Homo sapiens: one gene and its partner. The protein of the gene in region 1 interacts with the protein of each later gene in a pairwise test. Each region holds a gene or a part of one and is shown in the gene's direction. Other genes may lie near its edges.

What was found.
Region 2: the proteins of C3orf52 (region 1) and CNMD interact in binary tests that used the Homo sapiens proteins (3 or more experiments, as listed by UniProt).

What each region holds. Positions count from the first base shown.
Region 1 is NC_000003.12:112,099,731-112,103,388, forward strand, and holds part of C3orf52 (TPA-induced transmembrane protein), read left to right. Parts: intron 1-3,107; coding exon 3,108-3,235; intron 3,236-3,658. UniProt on the Homo sapiens protein: Has a role in LIPH-mediated synthesis of 2-acyl lysophosphatidic acid (LPA). LPA is a bioactive lipid mediator involved in different biological processes, and necessary to promote hair formation and growth.
Region 2 is NC_000013.11:52,712,273-52,715,930, reverse strand, and holds part of CNMD (leukocyte cell-derived chemotaxin 1 isoform 1 precursor), read left to right. Parts: intron 1-3,061; coding exon 3,062-3,215; intron 3,216-3,658. UniProt on the Homo sapiens protein: Bifunctional growth regulator that stimulates the growth of cultured chondrocytes in the presence of basic fibroblast growth factor (FGF) but inhibits the growth of cultured vascular endothelial cells.

The sequences.
Region 1 (3,658 bases):
TCCTGGGCTTGATATCTTGGAAACCTTTTTGATTTCTTCTTTCTCATATCTAGATAATGGCCAAATCTTACCAGTTATTCCTTGGTAGTGTCTTGATAGCAACTTTCCCACTTACTACAAGGCACCATGCAGGATACTTTATGCATGTTGGTTTTCATCTTTACTATCACCTACATTGTAGGTGTTGATATTTCTGTTGGAGAAGTAGCTTCAGAGATTTAAGTGACTTGCTCAAGGTCACCTGGCTAACAAATAGCCAACAGGAGTTCAGACTGAGTCTGGCTGCCTTTAAAGCCAGCTCTGTTTCTACTATCCTGGGCTTTCTCATTAATTTTTTCTTTTTGTTCCTTCTGCTGTCAGTCAAATCAGTCTGTTCCAAACTTGTGCCTGTTGGCCTCTCTGCCTCATCTCTCCTCGTTTCATTTATCCCATCCATGACCACCCGATTAACCTCCATTAAACACCAGCCTCTACTTTCTTCGTGGGCGATGTTTAACAACACTCCATTACCCCTTGAAGGTATCTGGCGTTTAAGGGCTCTCTCTCTAGCTTAATTTCTTATATTCTAGCCAAAGAACTGTTTTCATGTTCCTTCAACATACAACACATGTTTTTGTGATTTTTAAAAATATGTTTTTTCTACACGAATAAGTATAGCCCAGATTATCTCATTAGTGACATAAAAACTCTCCTGACTGAGTAAGCCTGTCGTTGTTACTATTGTTATTATTTTGACACACACAACTATTTAGATAGGTCTTGGTACAGATTCATGATTTGAATGATACACATTAAATATGTGTCAGAGCTATTATGGGAGGCCTGTTTTCACACTTGGCATCTCTTCTCAGTGTCCTTGAGTTTAGCAGTTATTTGAACCTTGTATCTATCCTCTTGGCATCCCCTATTGTTTTCTGAGGCATTGATATCTATTATGGAAATCTACATGGTGGGTATAGAGCTCAAAGATACCCATTGAAATATTATTTATAGAAGTAGAAAGCTAAAAATGATAAATGTCATATTTAAGAAAATAGGTGAGCCTATTATGAACATTATGAAGCCATTGAAATAATCTTTGCAAGGAATTTTAAGCACATGGGAAATGGCTTTTGATATGTTTACAACAGAACAATCAGGATAAGTAAGCAATAATGGCAGCAAACAACAAAAAGCAGGATATAAATTACCTATTTGTTAGGACCTTAAATATATAATATCAAGTATAGGAGGAAAAAACCCTCTTGATTGCAAGATTATTCGTATTTTTTTCTTTGCTTTGTTACAATTTCCTGCACTTTGCAAAATTTTTTGCTATGAAGGCGTAACTTTTTTTTTAAATCATACAACATAATGTCATGACTTATAACAATTAAGGACGCAGGGATAATTCCCTACGTTTGGGGGTCCCCAAGATTACTCCTAGATTCAACAATTTGCTAGGAGGATACACAGGACTCAGCATGCAGTCCTACTGATCACTATGATCTATTACAGCAAAAGGATACATTACATCAAATGATTAATTACAGCAAAATCCAGAGAAAACCAGGAGCAAGCTTTCAAGTGTCCTCTCTCAGTGGAGTTGCACCAGACTTGTTTAATTCCTCCAGCGATAGGCTGTGACAACACATGTGAGATCTCATCTACTAGGGAAGCTTATTGGAGATTCAGTACCCGGGGTTTTCACTGGGGCTTGGTCATATACGTAGCCTCTGCCTACTATGCACTAAAAATCCAGACTCCCAGAAGGAAAGGAGATGTTAGCCACATTGTACAAACAGTTGAGGCACAGTGAGCCCCTCTCATCAGGGGAAAATCCAGGTTCTCAGACACCAGCCAGGACCAATTTTGAGGAGGCCTTTCTTATGCTAGCAATCTCAGGCCTGCTATATTAACTCTTTTCTGCACATTCCTTGCTCGTAATGCCTCGTATTTCCAGATGTCATCACAGAATAAGTAACCGGAATACCAGGAATCTTCCTCCTTTTTACCTGTCCTTCCATCTCAAACACTGAATTTATTCCACTATGGTCTTAAAGTCTATGGCAATATAAGCACCTGGTTCCTCCCACCTACGCCTTTCTCAGGGCCAGAGAGGTAGTCTCCTGTGTGGGACCAGCTGGTGAGGCTGTTGTGGAGCCAGGGGAGCATAATTAGCACAGTAGTGCTAGCTTCTGGCGCCTGGCTCCTCACTTTGTGTGATTTTCCTTTAGTTCCAACTACTTAAAAATCAATTAGATGGCAGTCATTAAACACAAGCAGCAATACATAACTAATTGTCCCAGGAATGTAATTCCTGCACACCCTGGGGCTCTGAATATAGTTTAGCTTCCCTTCTGCAAGCAGAGCATGTCAACATACCTGTCCTGTGAGACATAGTCTAGAGTGATGACTTCATGCTCATCCTCTGTCTTCCTGGGGAGACTTCAAGACATGGACTCGCATGCTCATTTTCTAGTCACCTCTGTTGTTTGAGTCGATGATGTCACTTCTTCATGGTGGTCTTTGCCAGCACAGAATTGGGAGGTGAGTCAATGCAGTTACTTGCTCCCACTTCCTGTCCTTCATCACTCATTGTTTTAGGCAAACTCGTCAACCCTCTGGGTCTGTTTTCCCATTTATAAAATGTAAATGATTTCGGAATCTGAGTCTATAAATATACCTTGACCCTAATACATGCTAATTCATTGACCTGAACAATTCCTGCACACCCTGGGGCTCTGAGTGTAGTTTAGCCACCCCCACCGTCTCCCAGTACCTGCCTTGACACCTGTGTACCTAGCTAAGCTGCAGGTTTAGTCTAATAAGGAAGTTCATATTCTTCCTACTCCCTTGGGCCCTTTCCCCAGTCTGTATTCAGTGGAATCTGAGACCCCTTTGCCATAAAACAAACTTTTTATTTTGATAGAGGCAAACCCCTGTATTTTACTCAATTTTGCTGAGTGGAGAAAGCATTTCTGCTTACACTTGCTTGCTGTGTTCAGCCTTTACCCTTGATGCTCATAGTTATGTTTAAGTATGGCAGTCAATGGAATAAATAAGTTTATTATTATATGCAGGTGTTTACTTTTGTTTTTCATTTCCACCTCCCCTACTTTCTTTAGTAACTTATGTTGATGAAGATGAAAATGAAATACTTGAATTATCATCAAACAAAACATTCTTCATCATGCTGAAGATTCCAGAGGAGTGTGTTGCTGAAGAGGAATTGCCTCACCTGCTCACCGAAAGGGTAATTCCATCTTATATATTGCCTAAGGAGTTCTTGACATTAGAATATGAATTTTGCTAGAATAATTGGCATAGAGCTATAGAGTAAGTAGCTTCAATTTTGGATTCTTTGTCTGGATTTTAGCAGAAAATGATGCTTATAAATATATTTTATGACCAAATACCACATGTTCTCACTTACAAGTGGGAGCTAAATGATGAGAACACATGGACACGAAGAGAGGAACAGACACTGGGGCCTACTTAAGGGCGGAGGGTGGGAAGAGGGAGAGGAGCAGGAAAAAAAGTAACTATTGGGTACTAGGCTTAGTACCTGGGTGACAAAATAATCTGTACAACAAACCGCCATGACACGAGTTTACCTATAGAAGAAACATGCACATGTATTCTCCTGAGCCTAAAATAAAACTTTGTTAAAAAAATA
Region 2 (3,658 bases), on another chromosome or scaffold:
CAGTGTGGTGATTCCTCAAGGATCTAGAACCAGAAATATCATTTGACCCAGCAATCCCATCACTGGGTATATACCTAAAGGATTATAAATCATTCTACTATAAAGACACATGCATATGTATGCTTATTGCAGCACTATTCACAATAGCAAAGACTTGGAACCAACCCAAATGCCCATCAATGATAGACTGGATAAAGAAAATGTGGCACATGTACACCATAGAATACTATGCAGCCATAAAAATGATGAGTTCATGTCCTTTGCAGGGACACGGATGAAGCTGGAAACCATCATTCTCAGCAAAGTAACACAGGAACAGAAAACCAGACACTGCATGTTCTCACTCACAAGTAGGAGCTGAACAATGAGAACACATGGACACAGGGAGGGGAACATCACACACCGGGGCCTGTCAGGGAGTGGGAGTGCTAGGGGAAGAATAGCATTAAGAGAAATATCTAATGTAGATGACGAGTTGATGCATGCAGCAAACCACCATGGCATGTGTATACCTATGTAACAAACCTGCACATTCTGCACATGTATCCCAGAATTTAAAGTATAATTTAAAAAAATTAAAACAGTTGAACTCATGGAGATAGAGAATAGAAGGATGATTACCAGAGGCTGGAACGGTTTGGGGGAAGGGAGGATGGTAATGGGTACAAAAATTAGTTATAAAGAATAAAAAATAGAAAAACTAAATAAGACCTAGTATTTGCTAGCACAGCAGGGAGACTGTAGTAAAAAACAATTATACATTTTTAAAAAAACTAACAGTATAACTGGATTGTTTGAAACAAAGAATAAATGCTTGCAGTAATTACCCTGATGTGGTAATTATGCATTGCATGCTGGTATCAAAATATCTTAGGTAACCCATAAGTATATACCTACTATAGATCCACAAAAATTAAAAATAAAAAAAGAAAATAGGTGTAAGAATCTTGACTAAAATATTAGTAAAAGGAGTATAGCCATATGTTGAATAAGTAACATGTCATGACAAGGTAAGGTTTATTTCAGGGATGTACAAATGGTTCAATACTGGGACATCTTAGGGAAAAAAAGTATAGATAATAAAATTACCTACAATTGCATAATCCACAAAAAGCTAATGCTAATGTTTTGGTGAATTTTCTCCGTGTGTGTGTGTGTGTGATAGTCTTTCTATAAGGGAAATTATCCTGTTGTACATGCTTATTATTGTCATAACTTTAGTTCTTCTAAAATGTAGATTATAATGGACATATGCTTTATCATATGATTATAATTTTAAAAGTCTTTTATTCTTAAACACTTCAGGTATCTTCAATTTTTCATTATTTCAAATAATAATTAAAAATAACTATTTTTAAATACCATTATTTACCATGGTAAATAAATTCGCCGTGATGGTGAATGCTTTTATATTTAAATCTTTGTCTGCATCTGATTCTTAGGCCATAGAGGTAGATTATTTGTCCTGTGTTTTAGTTGTTTATGTCATGCATGATGGATCCTCTAGTGGACAAAAACAAATTCAGACAATACATTTGTGTGAATTAGGAATATGTTTGGCTGTCAGTAACAGAAAACTACCCTTAGAGTAACTTACACAAATCGGGATCTGTTTTTCTCCACAGTAAGCAATGTGGAGGCAGGTGGCTGCAGGCATTGGCTCGGTGGCCAGCATTTCTGTGATTTTTTAAAATCTTGCCTTTCAGCTCCAATCATGGTTGCCACTGCTCAACCTCTTCCTGACTTCCTTAGTTGGCATTCAAGTAAAAATGTCAGGAAGAAAGACATTGAGCAATGCCAACCACGACTTCCCTTTAATCAGGAAAAGCAGAAGGCCTCCCAAGCCCTCAGCATACTTTGGCCTGGATCTCACTGGCTACCACTGGGTCACCCGGGCACCCTGGACTGCAGGAGAACTAGAGAAAGCAAGTGTCTCTCCTGGGGCTGGGCTCATTGCTGCTTCCAATAAAAGAAGGACTATGTTACAAGGCAGGTGGGGGAGGAAGGAGATTGGGTAGGCAACCAAAAGTACATGCCTCAAGATTTATTTAACATTCTTAGCATGGAGGATGCATCTATATGCATTATCCCAATCACCCCACTCTTCCCCACACACTTTAGACTAAGATGGGGTAGATTTATGTACCACTTGCTTTCATAAATTTTTCATCAGTTTTGTATAACTTTAAAAAGCTACAGTACTCAAAGAGCATTCATTTCCTGGATGGAGCCATTTAATTTAAGGTAAATAACTGGATTACCTGACTGTTAGCTTCCTCCAATAACTTTAAGTTGTTTTAATGCAGCCATAAGCCTGAGGGAGAAAGCATAAATGAAGTACTGCTTTTAGCTAAAAATTAGGAGAAAACATTTTAATTTCTCCAAGCTATTGCAGACTAATAAGTACACGAAAGGAACAACCTGGCAGGATAAATTTGTCTCCTGGGTTATCAAACCATTCTCAGCATCTCACTGTGGAAGAAAATCCAGGGTTTAACTTTGAAATCTCAGTGGTGTGCTTGATGTGAGGAACATCTGAAATATGTGTTGTTATAGCTGGGAAGTGGAGAAATGGTTTATGTTAAATAATACTTTGAACTGAAGACATTAAAGAACCAATCACTTGCTTTTTCCATTGTTGTTCAGAAGCTGCAGAACAAAACCCCACAAGATTTTCACTTCAAATGAAGGGTTCCTCTATCCTTTGTAGGATTCCAGGGTTCGTTCAATTGCTTTTCCTCAAAAACATCTTTGATCAAAAACATCAGATTAACCTAAATCTCAAAGTTGGTATCAAGTAATTTTCACTTCAACTCAGGGCACTTATATTCACATGGTACAGCTATCCAGAGGCAGGGCAACAGGAGGAGGCGTGCTGAATATTGTGAAAAGAGCTACAAAGAGAAGAGATTAGAACCTTAAAGTGCACACATGTACACACGCATGCTCGGAATTCTCATTAATTTTTTATAAGGCAAAATAACCTTTTAGCAACACATGACTCTTAATACAATTTGTTTCACTGTCCTCTTTGCTCAAATGCAATCGTTTTTACTTTCAGGAAGGCAAGATCATGCCAGTCAAATATGAAGAAAATTCTCTTATCTGGGTGGCTGTAGATCAGCCTGTGAAGGACAACAGCTTCTTGAGTTCTAAGGTGTTAGAACTCTGCGGTGACCTTCCTATTTTCTGGCTTAAACCAACCTATCCAAAAGGTAACATTTTAAATTATCTTAAGCTGTTTACAACTTTCCCTGTTCATGCATGTGAGGTTCCTCCAACCCCCTCCACAGGCCTGAGCATGTTAACAAGGAGGATAAATCAGGATGCATGTCGCAGTGTCTCAGTAATTAGCATGAGAGATGAAAGAGCAGGAAAATGACAGCCCGTGACTATTGAAGGGAAGGGAAGGAGCAGTAGGGTTAACAGGAGGCAGATCAGGAAGACAATGCCATGGCATTACCTGCAGCTTTGGTTTATGACACTCCCACTTCTTTCCACTCTGCCCCTTTATCTCAGTTGTTTGCACCTTCCAATTTTACATTTTTTTTATTTCTAAGGCATAGAATCAAGGGACTAAGAAACTGTCATACCGCCGAGTCTTTATTGTGTTCAAACCTAGAATTATGGGACAGCCAAAAGCTGCTATGGGTATTGG